4 linked regions of the Homo sapiens genome follow. The protein of the gene in region 2 purifies or fractionates together with the protein of the main gene of each other region. This does not show direct contact. Each region holds a gene or a part of one and is shown on either strand. Other genes may lie near its edges.

What was found.
Region 1: the proteins of SLAMF1 (region 2) and ATP12A purify together in Homo sapiens (affinity purification with mass spectrometry; 3 studies listed by BioGRID and IntAct, with this or other methods). This does not show direct contact.
Region 3: the proteins of SLAMF1 (region 2) and RAB3B purify together in Homo sapiens (affinity purification with mass spectrometry; 2 studies listed by BioGRID and IntAct, with this or other methods). This does not show direct contact.
Region 4: the proteins of SLAMF1 (region 2) and SLC25A15 purify together in Homo sapiens (affinity purification with mass spectrometry; 2 studies listed by BioGRID and IntAct, with this or other methods). This does not show direct contact.

What each region holds. Positions count from the first base shown.
Region 1 is NC_000013.11:24,675,542-24,683,419, forward strand, and holds the start of ATP12A (potassium-transporting ATPase alpha chain 2), read left to right. Parts: upstream 1-4,866; 5' UTR 4,867-5,202; coding exon 5,203-5,211; intron 5,212-6,020; coding exon 6,021-6,179; intron 6,180-7,878. UniProt on the Homo sapiens protein: The catalytic subunit of a H(+)/K(+) ATPase and/or Na(+)/K(+) ATPase pump which transports K(+) ions in exchange for Na(+) and/or H(+) ions across the apical membrane of epithelial cells.
Region 2 is NC_000001.11:160,623,026-160,630,047, reverse strand, and holds part of SLAMF1 (signaling lymphocytic activation molecule isoform b precursor), read left to right. Parts: intron 1-5,862; coding exon 5,863-5,952; intron 5,953-6,462; coding exon of another isoform or gene 6,463-6,545; intron 6,546-7,022.
Region 3 is NC_000001.11:51,987,695-51,995,166, reverse strand, and holds the start of RAB3B (ras-related protein Rab-3B), read left to right. Parts: upstream 1-4,466; 5' UTR 4,467-4,615; intron 4,616-7,472. UniProt on the Homo sapiens protein: The small GTPases Rab are key regulators of intracellular membrane trafficking, from the formation of transport vesicles to their fusion with membranes.
Region 4 is NC_000013.11:40,785,710-40,792,611, reverse strand, and holds the start of SLC25A15 (mitochondrial ornithine transporter 1), read right to left. Parts: upstream 3,002-6,902; 5' UTR 2,949-3,001; intron 1-2,948.

The sequences.
Region 1 (7,878 bases), on a different chromosome or scaffold from region 2:
CTTGGGGGAATGGAGAGATGTAGGGCAAAGGACCCAAAGCCGCAGATATGTGGGGTGAGAAGTCTAGAGATCCGAGGCCCAGCATGAGCCCTATAGTGGCAACATTGTATTAGATCCAGGAAATGTGCACAGAGTAGATTTTCCATGCTCCTATCACACAGGCCCTCTCCCCGCCACCCCACACACAGAGGGTAACTGTGGGAGGGGATGGATATGAGAATTTGCTTGATAATCATAACTATCTCACTGTGCATAAGTATATCAAAATATCATGTTGTACACTTTAAATATAATAAAAAGCATCTTATTACACAACATAAGTCACAGGGAATGAAAACTGTGGGAACCTAAAGTACCCCAGCCATTGTGACATTTCGGGGGAGCTGTACCCACAGAAGGAGAAGGTGTGCCTGTCTGAGCCCCTCACAGGCCCGCACCTGCTTCTGGAAACGCCACTGCTGATTCCCATCAGTCATGGTGTTTACAGCTCCAGGCAGGATCATCACTGGAGCTGACTTGCTAATTTCTGAAAAGCCAGTATTTCTTTTCTGGAGGATGTTCATATGCCAATCTCAGGATTTCCTGTGCATGAAGAAATGAGGACACAGTGTGGAAGCGTGCTTGCCTGAAGCTTTGTTTTGTTTTTTCATCCTGGCTCCAACCCCAGGCGGCCCTCCTCTCGTCGGGAGAGGAACACTGGCCGAGTCACAGCCAGTCGTGCTGACTGGATACAGGTGCGTAGGGAGGGCTCCAGGTGGGGACTGTCCCATGTGTAGGAGAGGAATCCAGGGACAGGGAGAGGCCGAGTGGGCAGCAGAGGGACAGGCCAGTCGGACGCAAAGCAGGAAGTGGAGCTTCCTCTTCCCATTGTCATCTGGATCCTCCCGCTCCGTGTGGGGATCCTCACAGTCACACCTCTTTGAGCCAGCTGGTGGCCAGCCTGCGCACAGGAGGGACCTCCTGGGGTCCCCAAGGGAAGCCACACACACAAGGCCCCAACTCAGCTGCTCTCCCAGACTCTCTCCCCACTTTCTTGGCGGGTGCAAAGGGATGGAAAAAAATCTGAATAACTAATCCTAAGTAGTACAAGTTATGCCATTTCCCCCAGAGAAACCTCTTTCCTCTAAACTCTGAAGGCACTTAGAGCCCATACCAGTTAGTGCTAAATTATTTTCCCTTTTGGCCCGTTTACTATTGGTTCTTCACTAATTTGGTCTCTCCAACTCAAGTCCAACTTCCTAGAGGGCAGAGGATGGCATGATTTTAGTACCATATCTCCCCACCACCCCTATATCTAGTACAGCTTAAATACATGAAGTATATAATTTAATTAAAACAGGCTGAAAATACATATATCATGACATCCTATCCCAAATATATAATGTTCGTCAATATGAGCAGGTATAATAGAGAACCTTGGCGTGGATAGGCTTGTTTTGAAAAGCAGCAAAACCTCAAGCAGAAGCTGCTACTAGCACATGTGGGCTGAGGAAGTCTCCCGGCTGCAGCCTGGCCTCTATGGCCAACCCTCTAGGAGCCATTTGCACTGGGTGGGATCAGGGTACATTGCTCAGAACATTGTGGGTGATGGCCCTGGGACCGAACGTGTCTCAGGAGAAATCCAATTCCTGATTCTACAGGTAAGTGCCTCCAGATGCCTGCATCACAGTTACCCAGGGCCTACCCACCTCAAGGCAGAGTCGGGTATCCAGATGACTAGAGGCAGCAAAGGACACGATTCTGGAGTTAGGGTTGGGGAATGGCCCCATTTTCCTTCTTTGGTAGAAGTCAACACTCCAGGACACCTGAATGGCACCAGAGGCTGCCACAAGGGCCATAGCAGTGACAGCTGAGACTAGTCCCTGGCAGAAGCCAAGAACTCTGCAGGATCAGAGAGGTGCCAGAGAACCTGACCATGGAAATGTTTTTGTCCTGCTTGTAGTAATAAACCGTCTTCCACCCTTGATACCAAAAGGAATAAGCAGCAATCTTGGGCTCAATGGCTCACACCTGTAATCCCAGTATTTCTGGGGCAGAGGTGAGCGGATCGCTTGAGCCCAGGAGTTGGAGGCCCGCCTGGGCAACATGGTGAAATCCCTTCTGTACCAAAAAAAACCACAAAAATTAGCTGTGCCTGTAGTCCCAGCTACTCAGGAGGCTGAGGTGGGAGAATGGCTTGAGCCCAGGAGGCGGAAGTTGCAGTGAGCTGTAATCACACTGCACTCCATCCTGGGCAACAGAGCAAGACCGTCTTAAGAAAAAAAAAAAAGCGGCAATCTTCTCCAAGGATCAAGGGAGGGTGCCATCAGTTAGTACTTTCTAAAGCTGTGTCACCATCTCTTTTTAGCCCACTTCCCCTCCCCGCTCCCCATCCCTCAGTCAAGTCCCTAGGATCTGAGTTTGCTTTTGGAGCTTGAACTGGCCTTGAGCTCAGAGACATCTCTCTGCGGACCCTGCTTCTCTATTCTACATCTGTCCCAATAGTTGGAGCAGGGGCTGGAACAGCTTAAGGTGAGCAGCAGCCACCTGTTCCCAAAAAACCCTTAGCTTGGATTATCAGCAGACAGTGGAACATCAGTTTCGTACACATTTTGTATTTCTCACCCCATCTGCAAACCTTTCCTTTGAAGAGTATTCCAAGAATGGAACCCAGAGCTCCCCAGAAGCACACTGTTGCTTGGGTTTGGACTAGAATTTAATGTTCCCTCCAACTCTAGAGAATCCATGATGTGTATCTTTACACCAGATGCCACTAGGAGTCTTCCTGTCCCTTATCATTTTAGTTAAGAAGTGACTCATTGCTGTCATCCTTGCTTCACAGAGGGAGGAACCCAGGCTTCAGATTCTGCCCTTTTGGAACGGAAGAAGGAGGGAGAGCGGGGAAAGACCTATGTGTGCAGCACTATGGAGACAGTTCACTATGTCGGGTACAACACATTCCCTTAGTCTCATTTGAAAGCCATGATGAACAGAGAGGTGTGGAAAATCTAAGATCACAAATATGCCATGAGAAAGTATCTTTGTCTCTACTGCTACTTTACAAAACCACGTCTCTAACTGCTAACACTTCAAATTCCCTCAAAATAAGCTTCTTTTCCCAATTGTCCCTCACCACCAACTATAGTCATGCTCTGAAATTATTATGGAAATTTAGCATCTGAAAGGAACAGGAAGTTATAATTAATTCCTAATTAGAATTGGGCACAAGCTTTTTTTTCTTATTTTTTTTTTAATTTTTTTATTGTGACAGAGTCTCGCTCTGTCGCCCAGGCTGGAGTGCAGTGGCGCGATCTCCACTCACTGAAAGCTCCACCGTCTCCCGGGTTCATGCCATTCTCCTGCCTCAGCCTCCCGAGCAGCTGGGACTACAGGCGCCCACCACCATGCCCGGCTAATTGTTTTGTATTTTTAGTAGAGATGGGGTTTCACCGTGTTAGCCAGGATGGTCTCGATCTCCTGACTTCGTGATCCGCCCGCCTCGGCCTCCCAAAGCGTTGGGATTACAGGCGTGAGCCACCGCGCCCGGCCGGGCACAAGCTTATTGTTTTTCTTCTACCTTTTCTAAATGTACCCAATGCTCTTCATGTTTTCTGCCAGATGTTCTAGTCACTGCATGATGGGATTGTTACTTTTGCTGCTTCTCTGGACTCCTCACTCTTAGTCATTTTAAATATGGTCAAAATGACAATCTTTCTTACCATATTTGATATATAACTTTCAAAAAGAATAAAACTTAGCACCCTCCTATTAGTCCTTATCTAAATGGAAACTTATTAGCAGAGCATCAAGGGCCCAATAAAGTGCCCCCTCTTTTGAAACTTATCTCTACTCCCTTTCATATATTTCAATCATGTCAATTTCTTATTGTTCTTCTAAATAGGTGCTGATTACTAAACTCTATTCGTGGGTTTTATTTTTTATGTTCCTCTCCATTAATTAATATTCTTCACTGACTTTAAGACTTCACGATTCATTCTTTTAAAAGAACGTGTTTGATTTCCTCCACTGTTAACTGCTAAATATCTCTCTGATATATTGTTTTCAGGCTATCTTTCTCATCTGGAGTAATTATGTTTCAAGTGTCAGGGGGAAAATACCTTTTCTATCCTGTGCAAAAACTCATGCTGGGCACTAAGAGCATGGAGCATGTCCCAGTTATCTATTGCTGCATAACAAACCAACCCAAACTTAGCAGTATAAAACAACCACTGCTTTAGTATGCACATCAACTTTCAGGGTCAGAAATTCTTTTCTCCTTCATGTATAGAGTCTCAGCTGGGAGTGACATAAATAGGTGGAGACAGACCTCTCCAGCCCAGTCCAGCCAACAGCCTCCGCTCCTGCGCACCCGCAGCCTGGGGCCCCAGGTTCCTGTGGTCTCACCGACCCTAATCCTCTCATCTCTCCTCCCCATTCCCTCTCCAAATTGTTTCAGAATTCCAAATTCTTATCTGGATCCGGCAAATTAATTCAGCTACTCTTCAGAGTCTCTCAGTTATTCCCAAATTCTCTCGGAAGCTTGAATTTACCTATCTAAATCCATTCTCAAAAACACATTGGCCTTTTCTAGCCGGGACATCTCCAACAGTAGTTGCTGTTAGAAACTGCAATTTCCCCTTCTCTGCATACACATTTTTATAAATTGATTTATTGGTAGGCAAATTACATTTTTAAAAAAAGGCATGTGTGGGTTTTCAGGGAAGCCTGGACAGGACGTGGGCGTGCCGGGAGCTCGCCGGAGCAGCTGGTCCGGCTCTGGGCGCCCAGCGGAACCAGGGCTGTACTCACCTGGATGCCGGACCCGCCCCCTAGAGACCCCGCCCCCTGGCGTTCGGCTACTAAAGGGAAGGGGATTCCCAGGGGGTCCTCAATCCTGGACTCTCCCGACCCCTAGCTGTCGGTCCCCCTCCCTGCGCGCGCGCCGGCGGGTTTCCTACCCTCCGAGGCGTCCGCTGGCCTGCGCCCTGGCGGGGACGTGGGCGGGGCGGGCGGCATTTAAGGCTGGTGCCACCTCCCCGGTGCAGCGGCTGGCGATCGGCCGCGGAGGTGCGTGCAGGGCCCGCGCCGCCGCCGGTATCTCCACCGCCAACACCTCAGCCACTGCCACTGCCACAGCCACACGAGGCCCCCCACCGTGCGCTCCGCCGCTGCGGTCCCGGATCCGCGCTCCACGCCCGCAGCCCGCGGCGCCACCAGCCCAGCATGCACCAGGTGCGTGCAGCCCCCGCGCCGGCCGAGGATGCGAGACGCTGGGCCAAGGCCCCGGGGACCGGAGCAGGCTGACGGGAAGCGAGGAAAAGGCGAAGAGGAGAAACGCCCCGTCCCGGGGCAAGGGGAGGCCGCCTTTCCTCTGAGCGCCCCCCGGCCTGGGCACCGCTTCTCTGACTCCCCGCCACGGCTCCGTGCGGCCGCCGGGGCTGGCTGGGGAAAGAAGCCAGTCCAGAGGAGCGAGAAGGGGCCAAGGGGTCCTAGGCCAGCTCCATGGCACCTGCGGGCTCCGACTCGGAGGATGGGGTGACATGGATTCGTTGCGGTCTGAAAAGACTTCCGGTTAGGGCCCCCTGATCAGGACTGAGGGTCGTAAGCTTAGTGGGTGCCTCCTCCCCAAGAAACAGGACGCACAGCTGTTGTGTCCCCTGGGAAGGACACCTCAGAGGAAACCTCGAGGTGCCTAAGGAACCTCGAGGTTCTAAGGAAACCTCACAGCTCCTTGGAGGCATCAGTCAGGAGTTGGGGGGGTAACTTCCCACCTGCTCCACCCAGAGAAGGGTCACCCTGAGGAGCTGCTGGCTGGCCTGTGCCCACCCCGCCTCCCCTCTACACGGACGGAGAGGAAGCCAAGGTCGGCGGGAGGTGGGGGAGAGACTCCACTGTCCGACTCCCTCCGGCCTCCCCAGAGGAGGGAAGGAAAGGGAGAAGGGGCTCCTGACTCCTGCAGGTCCTGACCCCGCAGAGGGGCGCTCAGCACCTCTTCGGAAACCCCATTTGGGGCCAATATTGCACCTGGGCTTCTCTTTCAGAAAACCCCAGAAATTTACTCCGTGGAGCTCAGCGGAACTAAGGACATCGTGAAAACAGACAAGGGGGATGGCAAGGAGAAGTATAGGGGTCTGAAGAACAACTGCCTGGAACTCAAAAAGAAAAATCACAAAGAGGAGTTTCAGAAAGAACTCCATCTGGTCAGTAGCCTTAAGCCACGGGGTCCTGCCGGCTATGGCCCTTCCCCGCAAGAGCTTGCCCCTAGAACCCACCTCTTACCACAGACATTCAGTCTGAGGGATTTGAAATCCCCTTGAGATTGTGTGTGGTGTGTGGTGTCTGCGTGGTGTGTCTGTGTGGTGTGTGTGTGTGGTGTATGTGTGGTGTGTGTGTATGTGTGGTGTGTCTGTGTAGTGTGTGGTGTGTGTGTGTATGTGTGGTGTGTGGTGTATGGTGTGTGGTGTGTGTGTATGGTGTGTGGTGTGTGTATATGGTGTGTGTAGTGTGTGGTGTGTGTATGTGTGTGGTGTGTGTGTATGGTGTGTGTGTATGGTGTGTGTATGTGTGGTGTGTGTGATGTGTGTGTGATGTGTGTGTGGTGTGTGTGTGTGGTGTGTATATGTGTGTGGTGTGTGTGTGGTGTGTGTATGTGTGTGGTGTGTGTATGTGTGTGGTATATATGTGTGTGGTGTGTGTGGTGTGTGTATGTGCATGGTATGTGTGGTGTGTGTGTAGCGTGTGGTGTGTGTGTAGTGTGTGGTGTGTATGTGTGGTGTGTGTATGTGCATGGTATGTGTGGTGTGTGTGTAGCGTGTGGTGTGTGTGTAGTGTGTGGTGTATATGTGTGGTGTGTGGTGTGTGTGTGGTGTGTGGTGTGTGTATGTGTGTGTGTGTGTTTTGAATGGTGTGATAGTATCCACCCAGAGGTCAGGGCCTCTGCAGGATTCCTGCATTCTGGTTGGAGGCAGTCCCTGTAGAACTCAGAAGGAAGAGCCTCTGATTCCAGGCCCCACAGGCATGGCCAGACCTCTCTCCCCGCAGCTGCTTCAGTGAGAGTTAAGTAACCACTTGCCAGTTTTCAATTGATTAGTAAAACTATTTGAGCTGGAACTTCTGAGGAGGAAAACCAAAGCCCCTAGGCCATGCTAGATTGCAGGTGTGAAACCTCATGGAAAAGCAGTTTCAGTGGTAAAAATGTGGAGCTTGGATTGGGAGGACCTCGGGCCCCATCAGAGTCCCACTTCTCCACTGAGCTGAAACTGGCAACAAATGACTGACCCTCACTGAAGGTCCATTTCCTTTATGTAAAATGGGAAATAAATAATTTGCTGGGGTCTATGAGGGGAAAAAATGAGATGAGGATTTTGTAATTCACGTGCTTTAGGGGAGTACAATATTATTATTATTAAGGAAGAGCTCTGGAGTTATTAAAACTAGCCTTTTTTTTTTTTTTGAGACAGAGTTTCGCTCTTGTTGCCCAGGCTGGAGTGCAATGGCGCTATCTAGGCTCACTGCAACCTCCACCTCCTGGGTTCAAGCGATTCTCTTGCCTCGGCCTCCCGAGTCACTGGGATTACAGGCGCCCGCCATCACACCCAGCTAATTTTTGTTGTTTTTAGTAGAGACGGGGTTTCCCCATGTTGGCCAGGCTGCTCTCGAACTCCTGACCTCAGATGATCCACCCGCCTCAGCTTCCCAAAGTGCTGGGATTACAGGCGTGAGCCACTGTGTCCAGCCCAAACTGGCCACTTTAATAATAAAACTGCCTTGGGTCTGAAATGTGACAGATTTTATCTTGGGAACACCGAAGGGGAAACTTCTACACGGAGCTTGAGATGGGCTGGATTGTCCCCACCGTCCTTGGCAGATCTTAAAGCTCTGTGACTCCTGAGGGGAGTC
Region 2 (7,022 bases):
ACCGCTGGCTCAGCACCTCTGAGTTAGCTCAGTGAAAGAAAAGGCTGACGCCTGCCAGTGAGCTCCGGAGGCTTCCCCTTTCTAACAAGGTCATTTCTTCAAATAGGGAGTTCCCATTGTTTCAGAGTCACTTAGATGTTCCAGGCACTAAGACAGGTCTCTCTCTAGGGTCTTCCCAATTTAGCGAGCGTAAAAACAATGGTGGAAAGGAAAAACCTGGAAACTTTGCACAGCCCAGAGCCTGGTCATGGGCCACACCCGCTATAAGGGAAGCTGAGACACATAGCTCCTAGCTGAGCAGCTACATGCCCAGAAAAGACTCGTATTACCACGAAAGCATGAGCGCAATCTCACTGGAGCTAGTAGCCTCTGCAATGCTGGGTGGGATAGGCAGGTTGTAAGTGATTTTTCTGGAAGCTGTGAACTCCGTAAAAATGTTTACTTGGATGGTCCCAGAACTTAAATTAGTATATGGTTCATGAGGATCCTTCCCCACCCCCAGTTCTGAATGGAAACTGCCACGAACAAGAATGTATCTCTTGAAGATGGCAGCCTTTGCTGACAGAACCACATGAAAGGCAGGAAGGAGATCCGGCACGCTCCCACCGTTACGCTAACGTCGCAGTATCTCCTAGGTGAACTGCATTTGTTTCTCAGATTCTTTTTAGTTTTCTTTTTCATCTTCCCTAAAAAAAATATTAATAATAAGATTTTGGGACTTGAGAAGAGAGAGAGAGAGAGAGACACGCTTCTGTGTTTCTGTGACAACACTTTCAGAGACAAGAAAAAAAACGCCCTCTGGCTTTTTCCTTGGATGTGTGACTGTCTGCCAAGTTATCACGTTTAAACCACAGACAATAGGTGGAGAGGGCCCAGGGTGGAGACTCGAGCAAAGCACTCTTCCCAAATGGCATGTGAGTTATTGACCAGCCTGCTCGGCCGCCTCTAAGAGCCTCGGGAGTAGGGGGAGTTCCAAACCTCTGGTTCAGAAATGTTCAGGTAGCATTTCTTTGTGAATGAAGGAGTCAGGAGCTTCTAGACCCCAAGACAACTTTGATTTCTCAGCATCACCATCCAGAGAGGCCTCACTACATGACTGAGCAAAGAGAAGAAGAGCTGGAGCTTCTGCCACAGGAAATGGTGGTTTGAAAATGGGAGCACAGGTGAAGCGCCGATGGCACAGACACACACTTGCCTCCTGGCTCCATCTTGTTATTGTAAAGTATAAGCCAAGTGGGTCACTTCTCCTTCCCTTTGATTCCTGCCTTGGGCCATTCAGCAGGTGACCCTGCATTCCTTCTGGTAATTTTTAAACAGAAAGCTACGTGACAGTCTTTTTCTAGATCCATTTTTGTGGACTCTCATTTAATTTAACTTAGTTCATCGAGTGCATATTGAGTGCCCTCCTGCCCTATATTGTTTCCGGTGGAATGGAGGATACAAATAAAGAATAAGGTACAGGGCCTACCTTCATGGAATTTGCAATCAAAGTGGGACTTCTACATCTTACTAGCTAGAAAAATATAATATTTAAAGAAACATATTATAATCAAGGAACTGCTACTAGAATTCCTCTTTGAAAAGGAATTGTATTTGTTTATGATAGTACCTTAATAAATGCTAGAAGGCAGGTGGAGACCCCCCAGGAATCTGGGTGTGGGTTGGATGGTTCTGTATGAGAATGGAGGAAGATGATACTTGTGCAGAAATGGGAAGAGAAAGAGAGAGTCTGAACCTGCTAGGTGGTGAAAGCTGCCTGGTTCACAATGGAATTTGCTCCCTGGGACCCTTCAATCTTCAGCAGAGAACTTAAACCCACAAAATTATTGGTGTAAGTTTTTAAAAAAAAGTTTTTTTGGTTTGTTTGTGGAAACTGATTGTATTAGTCCGCTCTCATCCTGCCAATAAAGACATACCTGAGACTGGGTGATTTATAAAGGAAAGAGGTTTAATTGGCTCATAGTTCCACATGGCTGGAGAGGCCTCACAATCATGGTTGAAGGCGAATGAGGAGCAAAATCATGTCTTACGTGGCAGCAGGCAAGAGAGTTTGTGCAGGGGAGCTCCCATTTATAAAACCATCAGATCTTGTGAGACTTATTCACTCCCATGAGAACAACATGGGGGAAACCACCCCATGATTCAATTATCTCCACCTGGCCCCACCCTTGACACATGGGGATTATTACAATTCAAGGTGAGATTTGGGTGGGGGCGTGGCCAAACCATATCACTGATGAAGTGACTAAACCTTGCACCCAAGGAAGCACAGAGTAGAGCAAGCAGAGTTATAGGAGCAAAGACTTAGAGAACCATGAGGAAATTACTCCCAGAAATTACAGAAATCATGTGCAGCTTGACCTGAACAAACTGTAATAGTAGCACTTTTTTCATACTTATCCAAATTTCTAAGAGCATGGGGTCTCTGACATTTGATTTCCATGTAAATATAATTAAAGAATAGCAACAAATGGATGAGCACCAAGTATAAAAATACTTGGGCCTACTATACAGGTAGGGAAACTAAGCCATAAGTAAAGAACAGATGGGACTGAAGCATCTCTGGACACTGGTGAAGAGACTCCTTTGGACTTAAGATCAAACTCATTTTCTTGTCTTTCCAATCAATCAACAAGAATTTACTGAGACTCTATTATGTACTGAGTACTAAGAGAGCTGTTAAAGTAGTGTAAGAGATGGTCTCTGGCCTCCTAGAACCTAGCAACTATTTGGAGAATTGAGGCTAGCAGAAGTAATTGACACTTACTGACCACATGATGGATTCCAGATATTGCTCTAGGCACTTTCCATACATTACTATATGGGTTTCTCAGAACAACACTGTGAACTTATTGTTATGCTCATTTTACAGATGAGGAAGTTGAAGCCACAGAGGGTATGAGTAGCTTATCTGTAGTCACAGAGCTATCAAGTGGTAGACCCAGAATTTGAACTTATCTATCTGGCTCCAAATACCATCACTGAAAATGGTCTGCATGGTAAAGATGATGTTGCCAAAACTCAGGTTCTAAGATACATGACATAAACCACAGGTGCTGCAGGAGTCCAAGGGACAGGGAAGAACAAGAGCTGGGATGGTCAGGAAAGGTGACACAAAGAAAGGAAGATTGGCCTGGGCATCAAGGCTAGGCAGGCATGGTGGACAGCTTAGGGTGCAGCAGGAAGGAGAGTATGGAGTGGAGCCTGGGGCCAGGAATGAGCATGTGTTGGATGGAGGATGATGAAGGATGGGTTGGCTGCTCAGAGGGCTTTTGACTCAAAAGGTTTGAGTCAAAAGGGCTTTGACATCACTACTGCCTTCTTTATGGGGACCGCATCTCCAGAGGCTAAAGCACAAACCACAAAATCTGCAGTTCCCATCTTATCCAGCTCTGCCACTGACTTTTTCTATGACTCTGGATACTCCTGTCTGTGTCTCAGTGTCCTCAAAATAAAATTAGTGGGTTGGGTGAAATAAGCACTATACTATAGTTCCCTTAAGGTTAAAAAGGTCTATGATTCATATTTGTATCCAAAGATGAGGAAAAAAATTAGAGTTTATGAAATATCTTTCAGGACCATGGCCAACTTGTCTCTCAGATCTAGATGGACTGGCAGAAGCTTGTCATAGGACAAAGGTAGCAGATTGCTTTCATCCTCTAGAGACCCTAGAAAAGATAGAGAGGGCCGGCGTTGTCATGTCCTGAAGCCTTGGTGCTGCACCCAGTCATCGTTAGTTTCTGTGAGTTGGTGGGCAGCAGAGCAACCGGCGTCGGGCGCGAGGGAGAGGAGGCTGACTCACCAGGCATTACTGGTGCAGTTTTGTCTTTTATTTTCCAGTTCAGAGGTACTACTTTGTCTGTTGGTTTTATTTTTTTAATCTCAAGTGAAATTGGAAAGAAATATTATCTTTTAAAATGATATAAATGGTGGGGGTGTTTCTTCTCAAATCAGTTGTTGTATTGGAAGTTCCCAAAGTATCTATGATAGAAGAAGAAAGAGGAACTAGTCAAAATAGTAAGTGCTACTATAATGGTTTGCTGGATCAGTTCCATAGGCTGACGAAACACAAAGTTCAGGCTACTGGCTTTGCTTCTTATCCTAGTATTAGAGTGATTTCTCCAGTGGTTCCTAGTGTCGATATCATAAACCTTGAATGAATCAATCTGTCTCAAACACACACATACACACATACACACACACACACACACACACACACACACTCCTGCACAGAGGGTTCTCAGTGACCATAAGTCACTCAGAGTGGAGCTGCTCCTTCCTCCAGCATCAGCAATGATTCAAAATGTCATGCTTTATACAAATTCAGAACTCTCTGCCTGCCTCCTAACTTTTTTTTTTAATCAGAGCATAAGACTGTTGAAGTTGGTATCTGGCAAAATTAAAACATTTAATTTAGGGGATAGAACCTATAACCAAGGTGTTTGCAAAGTCAGTTCAGTGAGATTCCTTGGGCTAACTTGATGTGTGAAAGGCCTAAGGAGAAAAAGAATCTTTTCAAATCCAGAAGGCAACTTCTTGCCAGCTATCAGGCTGGAGGCCCCTTTGGATCTTGTAGGCTGCATTTTATGAATTCATTGAGACTGTCTGTATCTTTGGTCAACTCTGTAAACATCTGATTGTGTCCACCATGATTCTTTCCTTTGGAACCCGACTATTTTTCTTTCAATTTCTGCCCCACAAATTCCTCACAGGTTCAACAACAAGCAGGCTTATTCCACAATCATCCTTATAAGTTTCCCTTACACATTAATGTTAACATCTGGTGTTACTCTATTTAGAACCTTAGTGCGAATATTCTACTTAGAACCCTAGGGCTTCAGCTCGGTCCCCACTGTTCATTACCCCGGTATAACTTTTTCCAAGCCCATAAGTCTCTCTAACTCTCCAAGAAGTCTGTCTTTAGTATTCAGCCACATTTCTACTACTAAACCAAGCTCTAGTTCTTGAGGTTCTCCAGGCTGTTTTCCTTCTCCATAAAATGAGAATAATGAGTGTACCTACCTTGTAAGATTATTGTGAGGATTAAATATGTTAGTACACATGATGCACTAAAAATATGTGGCCCATTGCAAGTGCTCAATAATTGTTCATTATAATCTTATTGAGCTACATGTCTTGTTTACTGGGGGTGATAATTCTCATTCACTGTTTGTCAAAGTGTTGCTCCTAGTTCAAAAGGATTTGATAAAGTGGGTAAAGGAGAGAAAACAATAAAAGTTTTCTCTCTGATTTTGAGCCTTGATGATTAGTTCTCGGGCTAATTTTAAACATGAAGATGATTTAGAGGAAAGACTAAATACTTTCCTTTCAGTTCAGGTCTGCTGGGTTCAACCCAGTTATTTGCATGAAAGGACAACAATAGCACTATTATGTTTATTTTTAAAAAAGATAAGTAGATCTTTCTTCCTCCCAGTGTCTCATGAGAATAGCGTGAATTCACAGGGACGGCACATGGAACCATTATATTCTCTTTACCCAAAATGGATACAGGACACATTAGCAATCTTAAGATGGAGAAACTGGGCAGAGAGATTGACTTAGGAGAGATGAAGATAATTTAATGTTAGACATGTGGTAGTTGAGTTAAAAATAAAGCATTTGGATAGAAAAATCTTCATGAAATTAAGAATGTGAAAGTATAGTGAGAGAAATTAGAATAAGAAAACAGATACAAAAATTTTCAGTGGTCTAAAGCTGACCTCTAAAACCATGAAAACAAACGTCTCCCTTGGGAGAGAATGCAGAAATAGAACATGAGGCTCCATTATCCCACTTTCATGTAAGATGTTTTTAAGCTCAGAATACTTTTGAGATTGCTCTTTGACTTCTTTTTTTTTCCAGAAACAAAACCATGGGCAGTGTATGCTGGGCTGTTAGGGGGTGTCATCATGATTCTCATCATGGTGGTAATACTACAGTTGAGAAGAAGAGGTAGGTGTCTGGCAATAAATAGATTCTTATCACACTCTCTGTGGTAAGCAGGGGACCTCTCTCCACAGGCTCGGACTTGCTCTCACAACTCTGGCTTTCTGCATGGGGCCACCTTTGCAAAAATAGTAGATAAACATATCCTGGGACCTTGCTTAATTCAGTCTAATTCAACATGTCTTGATCCCCTCTACTAGGCTGTGGAAAGAAATAGAAGAGCCACAGGTTTCTAATGTGAGAGACATTATTCAGATAATTTCAGTTTAGTGTGACTAGCACTGCCATCAGGGTAAACACAGGATGCTGAAGAAGTGAACAAGAGGTTTAAGAGTATTCACTGGGAACAGAATTCAGAAAATTATTGGATCTCATCCAAAAAGTCACCAGGGTTAGAATGAAACCAATAAGGCACAATTATTCCCCTGCAGTTGAAGTGCCTAGAGGTACCATCCCCTGTCCTCTCTTCCAAATTTCCCTATGATACAATATCTCAGGGCATTGTGCTCCCCTCAGCCACCTTGACTACTACCAACCAATACTGGAGTCAAAATGTCCTGACCCAAGACCAGGAGAGATGCCCCGGCTGCCTTCCCATGGTAAGGATAGAACTTGATCCTCATAACACTGAGCTGATGACTGATTTCATTCTCAAGTAGATCAGTGTCATCTACACACAACCTTCTTAGAAAAGCCCTTACCTCAGCACTCTGATGTTGGTTTTGCATATATAAAAAAATCTAGATCATAGCACAGCGACCTACTTGTGTCTCATTTCCTCCATCTAAGAGTTAGCCAGGTAGGAGGGATGGGTGATTCAGATAGAAATTAGGTTGACAGCCTATGGGGCTCGGGGTAGGGCAATCACATTTAGCTCATACTATAAGGAAATAGTGAGATGACCCAGGATGAGAAAACTGAACTTAACTTATCCACATTAACCTACCTAGTAAAATTGCTGGGATCCTACGCCATACTCTTTCCTCAACCACACTTGGCTTATCACATGGTTGTGCTCTAAGGGAATAGTGCTCCCCATCCCACAATTCCCCACTACCTTCCCCAACACACATACC
Region 3 (7,472 bases), about 110 Mb from region 2:
GCACTCCAGCCTGGGCAACAAGAGCAAAACTCTATCTCAAAAAAAAAAAAAAAAGAATTTTGTTTTCCTTCCCATTCTTCCTTGGGCATTTGGATCTGGAAGTGAAGACAGTCCAGTATAATTTGATTTGTGTTGTTCTTCCCTCAGGTGGTTACCTTAGTCAATAAGAAGGTAGCTTATGAGGGCATAAATGATGCAACCCAAATGTCAGATGTGGCCTCTCTGCCTCCTTTTTTTTTTTTTTTTTTTTTGAGATGGAGTCTCGCTCTGTCGCCGAGGCTGGAGTGCAGTGGCGCGATCTCAACTCACTGCAAGCTCCGCCTCCAGGGTTCACGCCATTCTCCTGCCTCAGCCTCCCGAGTACCTGGGACTAAAGGCGCCCACCACGACGCCCGGCTAATTTTTTGTGTTTTTAGTAGAGACAGGGTTTCACCACGTTAGCCAGGATGGTCTTGATCTCCTGACTTCGTGATCCGCCCGCCTCGGCCTCCCAAAGTGCTGGGATTACAGGCATGAGCCACCGCCCCCGGCTTTTTTTTTTTTTTATTTGAGACCAAGTCTGACTCTGTCACCCAGGCAAGAGTGCAGTGGTGCGATCTTGGTTCACTGCAACCTCCGCCTCCCGGGTTCAAGCGATTCTCCTGCCTCAGCCTCCCAAGTAGCTGGGATTACAGTCACCTGCCACCATGCTGGCTAATTTTTTTGTATTTTTAGTAGAGATGGGGTTTCACAATGTTGGCCAGGCTGGTCTTGAACTCCTCACCTCAGGTGATCTGCCGACCTTGGCCTCCCAAAGTGCTGGGATTACAGGTGTGAGCCGCTGTCTGGCTGCCTCTCTGCCTCTTCAAGATCCAAATGCAATGGGCTTGAACCTCAATATTCACATTTCCCAACTCATGTAAGTGCAAAGTCCTACACAAGTTTTTGCAAGTTCCACAAGGGCTTGTGGTCTCACAGTTACCTCTGCTTCCAGTCTCCTTTTTCAACTGAGACCTAACAAAGCACATTGCTCAACTCCCTACTCATGTACTCTCACAATTCCCCTCTCTCAAAAAGCGTTCCTGGGTGTAATAGCCCTTCCTGAAGTCTTGAGAGTCACATAGGATGGTCACGTCCTAGTGTAACAAACAACTTATCCCATTTTAGGTATCCCACTGCTGAAACACTCTTGTCAACTACCATGGGAGAGTTTCTTCTGACTCTTTACCTATGTAGCACCTATCCTTACATTGATTTTCTTACTCATCTTTTTCCTTTTCCCCTCCGATCTCTATTAACTTGCCCTCCCATTTTGTCAAGTGAATTCCAAATTTGCCTTCCCCCAACCCTCCCACCCCCACCTTTTTTTTTTTTTTTTTTTTGAGATGGAGTTTCACTCTTGTTTCCCAGGCTGGAGTGCAACGGCGCAATCTCGGCTCATCGCAACCTCTGCCTCCTGCTACCCCTAATTTTGTTTAGATGGAGTCTCACTCTGTTGCCCATGCTGGAGTGCAGTAGCACAATCTCGGCTCACTGCAACCTCCGCCTCCCAGGTTCAAGTGATTCTCCCGCCTCAGCCTCCCGAGTAGGTGGGAGTACAGGCGCCCACCACCACGCCCGGCTAATTTTTGTATTTTTAGTGGAGACAGAGTTTTACCATGTTGGCCAGGCTGGTCTCGAACTCCTGGCCTCAGGTGGTCCCAAAGTGCTGGGATTGCAGACGTGGGCCATCATGCCCCACCTACCCCTACTCCCTTTTTAAACATAGAGAGCAATTTCTTCTCCCAAAGTTACGTATTCACTCTCATCAATTGAGGCCCCAAGCAGGACAAAAGGACTTTCTGTGCATTGGGATCTGTCATTCCTGGAAGGCAGTTGTGGTTTAAAAATAGCACTTTTTTTTTTCTGTTATACGAAGCACAGTGTTTCCTATTTGTTGAATGCTTACTGTATGCCTACCACTCTATCAAGTCCTCTCCAGTAGCTTGTGTTCTCATTTGATCTTCCCAACAACTCTGAGAAGCAGCTCTTATTATTGCTCTTTCTACAAATAAGGAAGGGGTGTGCGTGCGAGAGAAATTAGGTAATTGGCATAAGATCACACAGCAAGCAAGGACTGAAGACCAGGTCTGCCTGGCCCCAAGCCTGTGTGTGCCCTTTCTAATTTACTATACCGCCTTTCAGAGGAGGGAGAAGGAGAAAGCAACCAGAAGAACTGAGGCTACATAAAAGCAATACCATCTGTTCTCATATTGTCTCACAACTTTAAAAGGATGGCTCTATATGCTGTCTCATTATTCCTAGGAAGAAAGAATAATCATTATCATCTCGTCTATTTTGAAATGAGGGAAGTAGGGCCTTGTGAGAGAAAGAGAGTGAGGGAGCAGTTCAGCGTAGCATGTTTGATTTTGCTATTACAGAGGTACCAGCAGTGGGTGATTAAGAGCTCAAGAGTGACCATGGGAGCTGGTGGCCAAGGTGATGTGGAGGACAAGGACTGAGGGACCAGGAAATCTCATAGCTACTGAAGTCACCAGGAGGATGGCAGGACAGGGGCTAGTGAGGATGACCATGAGCCAGGGGCTGCAATCTGTAATGCATAAGGAGCAATTGGGGGGTCAGTGATGAGGAGGGGTTGAGGGGGGTATGGCTGGAGAGCACAGAAGAAAGAATTTTTGCACAAGGGTGGAAATGGCCATGCCATCCCCACATCCTAGTTTTATAGTATATGGGGAGTGGAAAAATGAGAAGCCTTCTAGCAGAGGGCAGCAAAGGAGGCAGTACCTGGAGGAGGCTCAGGCAAAGAAGTCACCTGAGTACTCTGAAGAAGCAGAGGGTATAGCAGAGTTTGTTGACAAAAGAACAGGATTCTAGAAGGCACAGAGGAAAGAGCTGCCAGTGTGATGGGCAGTGTGAGTGAAAGGGCTGGGCAAGAAGCTCAGAAGAGTAAGCGTCTGAGGCAGAGGCCAGACAAGCAGAGGAGCTGTCAGCTTGGGTGGTTCCTAGGCTGGAGATGTACACTGTAGACAGGGTCATAATGGAACTTGGGGGGAAAATGGTTTTGGTATTTGACTCAGACCTCTAAGATCTGAGATGGGGGAGAAGTGTGGGGAAAGACAATGATTCTAGAGCAAGCCTTCAGCTGGCTCCTGTGACCTCAGGAAGACTGGAAGTCCATATCAGGATTTGAGGGTGGGGTATTTATTGCCTCCTCTATCTGCCTCCTCTAGTGGAAGTGGGACTTCCTAGGGCCAGGCCAGGCAAGAACATTTTTCTACTCCTGTTGACAGCCTCCTGGTAATGGGAAACCATTGAGAGGTTTTTGTTTGTTTGTTTGTTTGGTTTTTGATGGAGTCTGGCTTTGTTGCCCAGGCTGGAGTGCACTGCTGGAGTGCAGTGATCTCGGCTCACTGCAACCTCTGCCTCCTGGGTGCAAGCAATTCTGCCTCAGCCTCCCAAGTAGCTGGGACTACAGGCATGCACCACCATGCCCGGCTAATTTTTGTATTTTTAGTAGAGACAGGGTTTCACCATGTTGGCCAGGTTGGTCTCGAACTCCTGACCTCAAGTGATCTGCCCACTTTGGCCTTCCAAAGTGCTGGGATTACAGGCGTCAGCCACTGTGCCTGGCCGAGAGTTTTCTTAAACAAGGTTGATGGTAACATGGTGACATTTTTTAAAGGGTTGCTCGGGCTTGTGTCAAAATGATTTTGGTATCTGACTCAGAATGAATGGGACCAGGAAGTCTCACAGCTACCGAAGTCACCAGGAGTATGGCAGAACAGGGGCTAGTTAGGATGACCATGGGCCAGGGGCTGCAATCTTTAATGCATAAGGAACAATTGGGTGTCAGTGATGAGGAGGGGTGGAGGGTGGTATGACTGGAGACCACAGGAGAAAGAATTTTTGTACAAGGGTGGAAATGGCCATGCTGACACCACGTCCTGGTTTTATAGGGTGAATTGGAGAGTGAAGGCAGGAATTAGGAAGCTGTTGCATTAGTCCAAGCAAGAAGTGATGATGCTGGAGTCAGAACAAGGGCAATGGAGACACAGAGGAAGGGCAGGGATATGTTAAGGCGGTGGGATGTGGGGTGTGAAGGAAACACAGATAGGGTAGAGGACAGCGTCCAGGTTTCTGGCTTGGTTTCCGCTTGTAGTCAGCCTCCCTCTCTGGGCTTTTGTGAAGACGGAGCCATAGAACGGACCGGACCAGAAAGCAGTTTGGAAATGGCAAAACTGCTACCCATCATCAGCTACATTATCATCAAAGCTCTCTAATTACCCTAGTAAGTTCAGTCAATGGAACGAGGCATGACAATTAAGATAAATCACGAGAGTCACCCAGACATGGGGGACCTGGAGGTCCTGAGTCACCTCGGATTACACCTGCTAGGAGTTGAGGGCCGGGGCGGGGCGAACACAGACTCCGCCCTTGGGCGGGGCCTGGATGCGGCCGGAGCGGAGCAGTGCTGGAGCGGGAGCCTCAGCCCTCAGGCGCCACTGTGAGGACCTGACCGGACCAGACCATCCCGCAGCGCCCCGCCCCGGCCCCCTCCGCGCCCTCCCGACGCCAGGTCCTGCCGTCCCGCCGACCGTCCGGGAGCGAACCCGTCGTCCCGCACTCGGAGTCCGCGGTAAGGGGCGCGGCCCCGGCAGCCCGCCCGCGGAGGATCAGGGACCGATCCCCGGCGCGGGGCGCTGGGCACCGAGAGCGGGCGCCGAGAAGGAGCGCGGGGCAGCGGAAGGAAGCCGGGGGAGGAGCGAGGGAGGGGGCTCCGCGGCGGCAGAGGTGGGGCTCACCTAGGGAGGGGGCGCCGAGGGGGTCTCCCAGACGTTGGGGGCAGCCGGGGGAGCTCCAAGGGCGGGAGGGGAGCAAGAAAGACGGCGCTGGGGCTGGGAGGAGAGATGGGGGGCAACTGGAGGGCAGTGAGGGATCGCTGGGGGAAACGGGGGCGTGGGGGGCGGGGGAGCTGCGAGGAGGGCGGAGTGGGGCTGTGCGGAAAGGTGGTACCGGGCAGCCGAGGGGCAGCGAAGGGGGCGGTGAAGGGAGCGGACTGAGGGGAGCTAGAGCGGGGGTGCGGGGGGAGGCATGGAGGTGAGGAGCTGAGGGGAGGGGACTGGCTGGGCGGGGGTCGTTTGGAGCTGGAGGGGACTGAGGTGCCGAGGGCAAGGGGCGCTGGGCAGCTGGGGAGTGTCTGGTTGGGAGAGGGTCGGGGGTGGGGATGTGGGTATGGATAGCTGGGAAGGAGAAAGGCAGCAGGGCAGTGTCTGGTCGAAAGAGGGTCATTTATGGGGGATGTGGGTATGGATAGCTGGGGTCGGAGGTTGAGCCCGGCTGGGGACCGGCGTGGGGGTAACTGTAGATGGAAGACGAGGGGTGGGGCTTGGGGGCGGGAAGCTTGGGAGAATGGAAGGGTGAGAGGCCAGGTTGGGTCTACCCTGCTGCAGAGGAAGGGGGCAGGGAGCCGGTGGAGACACAGGGAAGTGGCCTTGGAAATGGACACAGGGGCCTACATTCTGGTCAGGAGTGGAGAGGAGGCTCTGGAATAGAGTAGGGTCTGGCGGCTGCAAGTGGAGGAATCGTGGGAGAACTTGGAGTGTATAGATAGGGTGGTGGGGCGCTGGGTCAGCCTGGGGAGGAGGCCAGGTGTGGGTCGTGGTGTAAGGGTGGAAAGGTAATGGGGGCTGGAGTGGTGTCCACGCACTAGCGGTGTCTCGGCCACTCAGGAGTCCAAGGAGGGGACCCAGGCACTGGACCTTGTTACACGGGCACCGGGGATCACAGAAAATAAGAGAATCGTGGACAGAAAAAGTCATCCAACTCTGTTCTGTAGTCCAAGCATGGAAGCAACTTTGGGGAGGGCAGGGCAGCAGCCTTTGGAAGCTAAGAGAGATGTGGAGGAGGTGGGAGAAAGATGGGCCCTCAAAACACACACACACACACACACACACACACACACACACACACACACACACAAAACAAGATGGGCCCTCTTCCCCCGGCTTCCTGGAATCCAGATGGAAAGGGGTGGGAGACAGTAAAAGGAGAGGATGTGTGTGTGTGTGTGTGTGTGTGTGTGTGCGCGCGCACAGGTGGGTGTCCACCTGTTCTGTGCCTATAAACAGAGGAAGACAATGGAAGCCGTGAAAGGCCCTATCTATAGAAGTGGAAAGCCCTGGTGCCCTGTGGGAGCCAGAGAAGAAGCATTTTGGGGGAGGTGGGTGGGTTGGGGAAGCCTTCCTGGTCATGAAGGATTTAGCTAGCAGTGGAGGAAAGTGTGTTCCTATCAGAGGAAACCGTATGGGAAAAGGCAAAAATCTAAAAGCATCTCCAGTCCAAGAAATAGATCTTCAGTTTCTTAAAGATTATGACATGAAGGGAGGCATCAGTAACCTATACAAAATATTTAAATAGATTTCCCCTCTAAGCTTGAAGCTCCTAGGGTTTCTCTCCATCTCCCTAAAGTATAGCACAGGTCCTGGTGCATAGTAGGTGCTTGGTGAATGTTGATTGAATGAATAATTGGTGCTCCTGCCTCAATTTCTTCATCCATTCCCAAGAATTGTTGTGAGAATCAAATAGGATAATGTGGGTGAAAAGAACTTTGTAAACTGTAAAACAATGTACAAAGAGAGAGGCCACTGATGTTATTCTGCAGGTGTTCCTGTTTTGTCAGTGGACACACCCATGGCTATCTCTTTCCAATCTGGAGGAGGAAGGAAATGAATATCAAGCATCTGTTGGTGCAAGATGGAATGCTTTGAAAGCATCTTGTAGAATGCTAGACATTTAGTAGGTGCTCAATAAATGGTAGCTATTGTGATATTGTTTCTGTGGCTCTAGGAGACCTGGGAAAACAATGAGAAGGTGGTGATGGGTCAGCAGTGGGGAATGGTCTAAAGACAGATTGAATTAGAAAAGTAGAGTATGGCTTAAAGGAGGATGAGGTCCACATTTGCCCAACTCCCTTCTTATTCTCACTGAAATGCTCCAAGTAGGAAGACAGGGAATTACATTATTGAGCCCCTGCTATATTGCATATACAGTTGACCTTTGAACAGCATGGGTTTGAACTGTGTAGGTTCACTTATACCTGAATTTTTTTTTTCAACCAAACACTGATTAAAAAAAATACCATGGTGGGTCAAGCGCAGTGGCTCAAACCTGGAATCCCAGCTATTTGGGAGGCTGAGGTAGGAGGATCGCTTGAGCCCAGGAACCTGAAGCTACAGTGAGTTATGATCAGGCCACTGTACTCCATCCTGGGAAACAGAGTGACACCCATCTCTTAAAAAAGAAGAAAAAGAGAAGAAAATACAGTAGTGAAGGGAGGTGAAGTCTGTATATTCAGAGGACCAACTTTTAGTCTAGGTGGGTTCCACTGGGCCAACTGTGGTTCTTGAGTAGGCGTGGATTTCGGTATATATGGGGGTCCTGGAGCCAATCCCTTGCCTATACCAAGAAATTACTGTACTATTCTAGATGTATAA
Region 4 (6,902 bases), on a different chromosome or scaffold from region 2:
AATAATAAAAATATTATAAAACAAACACAGTCACAAATAGCCACATCAGACTGATGGGACGCCACACCGTGCACAAGCATCATGTGTTCTTAGAACAAGGCCCTGCGCAAGCATCTTCCTGTCACACACATCTTCCCGTCACCACAGACCACCAGCCCTTCAAATGTAAACGTGTGCAGGAGTAGCCTGGGGGCCTTGCTAAATAAAATGCGGCCTCTGATTCAGTAGCCTTGGACAGGACCAGAGGTTCTGCCTGTTCTGATGAGTTCCCAAGTGAGGCGGACAGTGCCAGTCCACAGACTCACACTTTGAGATACAACACCTGGGCCGTTGTGTCCAAATCCACTTGATAACCTGGAGCACTTATTAAATATCCAAATTGCCAGGACTTTCCTCTGGAAATCTGGATTCAGTATGTTTTGGTTGGAGCCTTGGGCATTTGGGAAAACTAGAATTTCTTTCTCTCTCTTTAGACAAAAGTCAACTACTGTTGAGGCATGGGCTTAATAAATGTTGACTAAAATATCCAACTCAACGACCAATCCTGTACAGTTTTCAAACGGTGTTAGTAACTTATTTGCAAATAATAAGGAACAACTTATTCCTCATCACACTGAGGAGCCGTGTGACCCATCGTGCTGGATCAGAGATGAACACCAAGCACGCTCCTAACACCAATGTCACCCTGAACGTCAACAGGAAACATTGGCCGTGGAGAAGTTGTTTAAACCTCTTGAAGCATCTTGCCAACGACGAGACTTCAATAATCCTCCTTTATTCACAAAAAATTTAAAACCAGTGGCAACAACGGCACATTACTTAATAAAGCAACTAAGTTAGAAGTGCAAGACACTGATTTATATGCTGTTGATAGGTCTGGAGAGACAGGACCATTCACTAGGCTGAAAAGGTGGTGGCCATCTGGTATCTTCCTAAAAAAGTTTATCAGGGTCCTGGCCAGGCGCGGTGGCTCACGCCTGTAATCCCAGCACTTTGGGCCGGCTGAGGTGGGAGGATCACGAGGTCAGGAGTTTGAGACCAGCTTGACGAATATGGTGTAACCCTGTCTCTACTTAAAATACAAAAATGACCCCAGCGTGGTGATGCACACCTGTAGTCCCAGCTACTCAGGAGGCTGAGGCAGAAGATTCACTTGAACCCGGGAGGTGGAGGTTGCAGTGAGCCGAGATTGTGCCACTGGACTCCAGCCTGGGCAACAAAGTGAGACTCTGTCTCAAAAAAAAAAATAATAATAATAATAGAAAATAAAAAATAAAATAAATAAATAAATAAATAAATAAATAAATAAAAAGTTTATCAGGGTCCTAATCCTTTCCCAGAAGGCAAACTAAAGCCTGGAGCAAGACAAGGTCTTCTCCAAGGCCACACAACTGTCAGTGACAGAGGATTCAGTTCAAAGTCCTGTCTTTTCAGGCCTGTGCCTACAAACCAACCGTTAATCTGAGTATTTCAACCTGGCCAAAGGCAACACAAAACACCCAACCCTATATTTTTGGGAAAGAAAAAAACGGGGGCAACTGAGCAGACAGACAGAGGCAAGTACAATGTGGCCTCCTAGATAAACCTCAATGCGCTTATTTCTTTTGGCACAGACACTTCCTTCTTAATTTTGAAGGAAAGTCACATCACATTACATTCTATCTGTCCCTAAGAATTAAACCCTGTTAGGTGAGCCAAACTTAAACACATTAAATTCTACAAATAGGCCAGGCACAGTGGCTCACGCCTGTAATCCCAGCACTTTGGGAGGCCAAGGCGGGCGGATCACCTGAGGTCGGGAGTTCGAGACCAGCCTGACCAACATGAGAAACCCCCGTCTCTATTAAAAATACAAAATTAGCCTGGCGTGGTGGGCCATGCTTGTAATCCCAGCTACTCGGGAGGCTGAGGGAGGAGAATAGCTTGAACCCAGGAGGCGGAGGTTGCGGTGAGCCGAGATCGCCCCATTGCACTCCAGCCTGGGCAACAAGAGCGAAACTCCGTCTCAAAAAAATAAACAAACAAATAAATTCTACAAATAGCCATTAGAATTATTAGGATAGAAAACGATGATGGGTACTAACAGATTCACTCAGAAGGAGTGGGCAGCTAATTCACATTATGTGTAGCTCTGGCTTGGAGAAGACACAGGGCTTGGAGGAGGCAAGACTGTTCAGCATGAATTAAAATTGATTTATGAGCTTGCTGTAGCACTTGGAATAGAAAAAAGAATCTTTTCAGCGCCTTTGACCCCTCTCTCAAATTACACCAGGGTGCAACTGAGGAACAACAGTGCCGACCACCCACTTTTCTCGACCCTTGGGGAAAATAACTTTTTTTTGGAAGGGAGAGTCAGTAGATGAGGCTGCATTTTCCACCAGGGAACACGAACTGCTGCGGGAAGATCCCAGCTTCTGGCTAAAGGAGCCGCAGGCCAGCTCGCCATCCAGTCCCCAGAGCCCGGGCTTTAGGTAAAGCGTGGAGATGCAAATCAGTTTCGCCGCCAAGGACCGGCCAGGCGCGTCTCCTCCCGGGCCTCGCAAGGAACAGGTCAGGGAGACGACTTCCAACTTTCTTGGCCGGACCCTAAACGTTCACCGCCCCTGCCCAGCCGCCCACTCCTGGGCAGCCAGCAAGTCTCCATTCACAAGCGGCTCCATGCTGCCCAGCACTGGCGCCCCTGAGGCGCGGAGCCCCGCAGCCAAATGACAGGACTTGGGGGCAAACAAGGACAAAAGTTCCCACCAGGTGGGCACTGCAGGAAGGAGGCCGACAACCCCGAGATTCTCCGAGTCCCGCGGCACGTGCGCTGCGACGCTGGCCGCTTCCCCCGCCGCTCGGGAAGGTCACGCCGCCCGCACACCGAGGCCCGCCCCGCGCCCCGCTCCCCGCTCCCTCTGCCTGGCGCGCTCCCCGCAGCTGCAGGCGCCAGACCGGGCTGCGCTCACCGCCGCGCCGGCGTGGCCGCGTCCAGCTCAGGCTCCGCCGCCCGCTCTCGGCTCCGGGTCGCCGGCTGGGGCGGCCACTTAACACCCACGTCGGCAACGGCCGGCCCTTCGCCCCTCCCTTCGCGCAGGCATCCCGGACTGCGGCCCCGCGAAGCTCAGGAGCGCCCCTGCGGCTGGCGGGCGGCCTGCCCAGGGCCGTGCCCGAGCCGAGACCGGGAGCCGCCACCGCCCACCGGCCCTGCCACCGCCCCCAGCACGGGAAGCGGAAGTGGGCGTGGGGCCGCGGCGCGCACAGCCAGCCCGCGACCCGGCGTGGTGCTGCCGCCGACCCTGGTGAAGGTGGAGAGCGGGGCCTGCGCCTCCGGAGACTTTCCCACCTCTGGGATCCCCGAGACCCTCTCTGAGGCCGGACCCTTGTTAGCCCGCTGGGCTGGGACTGGGGGCTGGGGGCTGGTAATGTCAGTGGTTGGGAGGACTTACTTTTTAGCTACTTTGACCTTGTTGGGAGGCTAAGGCCTTATTTATAAATTATATTTGAGTACAAAATTATACTCGGGATCCAAGGCCCTAATAGGAAATACAACTAAGTATGAAAATACAGGAATTAGCCGGGCATGGTGGCTCACGCCTGTAATCCCAGCACTGTGGGAGGCCGAGGTAGGCGGATCACCTGAGGTCAGGAGTCCAAGACCAGCCTGGCCAACATGGTGAAACCCCGTGTACTAAAATTACAAAAATTTATCCAGCGTGGTGGTGCGTGTCTGTAACCCCAGCTACTAGGGAGGCTGAGGCAGGAGAATCGCTTGAATCTGGGAGGTGAAGGTTGCAGTGAGCCAAGATTGCATCACTACACTCCAGCCTGGGCTACACAGCGAGACTCCGTTTCATAAAAACAAACAAACAACGACAAAAAAAAAAAGGTGTGGTGACACATGCCTCTATTCTTAGCTATTTGGGAGGCCAAGGCGGGAGGATCGCTTGAGGCCAGGAATTGGAGGCCGCAGTGAGCTATGATGGCACTGTTGCACTCCAGCCTGGATGACAGAGACCTCATCTCTCTCTCTCTCTCTCTCTCACCCACACACACACACACACACACACACACACACCCTCCACACAGTGTAATTTTATTTTACAACTTTAAGCCTTGTTTAGATGTGCTGTTGGATTATTATTTTTTTCTTTTTTTTTCTTTTTTTTTTTGAGACAGAGTCTCACTCTGTCACCCGAGCTGGAGTGCAATGGTGCAATCTCAGCTCACTGCAACCTCCCCCTCCTGGGTTCAAGCGATTCTCCTGCCTTAGCTTCCCAAGTAGCTGGGATTACAGGCATGCGCCACCACACCCAGCTAATTTTGTATTTTTTAGTAGAGACAGGGTTTCACCACCTTGGCCGGGCTGGTCTCGAACTCCTGACCTCAGGTGATCTGCCTGCCTCGGCCTCTCAAAGTGCTGGGATTACACGTGTGAGCCACCACGTCTGGATGTGCTATTGGATAATTACCTACGTTATTTAAGTGATTTAATTGGTGTTAGTGCTTAACATGAATGCACACTTGAGTAGACCTCCCAGGCTGTAGTAGATGCTATGATGGGATCAGAGTGCCTGGTACATGGACACTCATCAGAATCAGCACTTTAGAACTTGGGCTTCTGGACTGTAATCGAGTTACAAAAACAAGCCAGGGAGTTGGGATGACTTGTCCAAAGTGATGGGGAACATAACTAACTGAAAGCAGATCCAGCAGCTGAAACTACAGTTACAGCAGCTTAAAGGGGTTGGCAATGTCACCTGGTCCAATAGCTTTTGCAGCTTCAGAAAATGAGACCCAAAGGAACCCTGATTAAGGACAGACTTGGCTGGGTGTGGTGGCTCATGCCTGTAATCCCAACATGTTGGGAGGCTGAGGCAGGAGGATTGCTTGAGCCCAGGAGTTCGAGTTGAACCTGGGCAACACAGTGATGTAACTGCCCAATGGGTTCTTCTCGCCCGCTGCCTCAACTGAGCCAATTTATCAAGATGGGGGAATTGCAATAGAGAAACAGTTTAATTCACGCAGAACCAGCTGTGCAGGAGACCAGAGTTTTATTATTACTCAAATCAATCTCCCCAAGAATTCGGGGTTTGGAGTTTTTAGGGATAATTTGGTGGGTAGGGGGCCAGTGAGTGGGAGTACTGATTGGTCATGTTGGAGATGAAATCATAGGGAGTCTAAACTGTCCTCTTACGCTGAGTCGGTTCCTGGGTGGGGGCCACAAAACCAGATGAGGCAGTTTATCAATCTGGGTAGTGCCAGCTGATCAATCCATCAAGTACAGGCTCTGCAAAAATATCTCAATCTTATCTGTGATCTTAGGTTTTACAATAGTGATGTCATCCTGAGGAGCTATTTGGGGAGGTTTAGAATCTTGCAGTCTCCAGCTGCATGACTCCTAAACCATAATTTGTAAACTTGTGGCTAATTTGTTAGTCCTACAAGGCGGCCTAGTCCCCAGGCAGGAAGGGGGTTTGTTTTGGGAAAGGGCTGTTGTCGTCTTTGTTTCAACGCTAAACTATAATCTAAGCTCCTCCCAGAGTTAGTTGGGCCTACACCCAGAACAAGGACAGTTTGGAGGTTAGAAGCAAGATAGAGTCAGTTAGGTCAGATCTCTTTGACCATCATAATTTTCTTGGTTATAATTTTTGCAATGACAGTATCAGTGAGCCCCTGTCTTTACTAAAAATCAAAACAAAAAAAAATTTTTTTAAACCTGGTGTGGTGGCGCATGCCTGTAGTCCCAGCTACTGGGGAAGCTGTGGCAAGAGCTCTTGAGCTGTGTTCATGCCACTGCAGTCCAGCCTGGGCGACTGAGCAAGACCCTGTCAAAAAAAAAAAAAAAGGAAAGACCCTGTTATAGATTAGAAAGAGCACTGGACTTGGGGCCAGGATGTTTGTGTAAATGTCCCTGTGTGACCTTTAGTGAGTCACTTAGCCTTTTGTAAACCCCAGCCACAGCATGACTGCATCACTGGTTCCTTTGAACCCCCTGTGTTCCATCAGCCTGCTGGAACAGTCCACCATGCAGGGCGCTTGGTACTCTCCTCGAGCCATTGGGCCCTAGCCTAGTGCTTTCTCTTGTCTTCCTTGAGCCCCTTCCTCTCCTATCCTGACAAGGGCTGTTCCAAACTCTCATCACTCCCAAGCCTTCCACATTTCTCCTCTCCATGCCTCCCAATTTGTTCTATAAGAAACTATCGGAATTTTGCTCAGATTTTTAATCCATAGTCTACAAAGTTACCTTTTTTGGGTTTTTTGCACAAACTCTCATTTATTTGTCTTCTGTCCAACTTAGTTGCTGTGTCCCCTTGCCTAGCCCAATGGCTGGTGAGAATGAGGTTGGAGAAGAAACCAAGGTGTTGGGAGGCCACATTACACAGGCGCTAAGAGAAAAGCAGGGACTCAGCAAAGTTCTGTCCAACTCCAAAGGTCAGGCGCTCAGCTGGTACACTGTGCAGTGCTCCCTCCCAGAGGCTTTTTTTCTTTCTTTCTTTGAGACGGAGTCTTGCTCTGTCGCCTAGGCTGGAGAGCAATGGCGCGATCTCGGCTCACTGCAACCTCTGCCTCCCGGGTTCAAGCAATTATCCTGCCTCAGCCTCCCGAGTAGCTGGGATTGCAGGCGCCCGCCACCATGCCTGGCTAATTTTTTTGTATTTTTAGTAGAGATGGCGTTTCACCATGTTTGCCAGGCTAGTCTTGAACTCCTGACCTCAAGCGATCCGCCTGCCTCGGCCTCCCAAAGTGCTGGGATTACAGGCATGAGCCACTGAGCCCAGCCGAGGCTTCTTATTAAAAGCAAGAGGTGCCAGATGTGGTGGCTCACGCCTGTAATCCCAGTGCTTTGGGAGGCTGAGGCGGGTGGATCACAAGGTCAGGAGTTCAAGACCAGCCTGGTCAATATGGTGAAACCCCGTCTC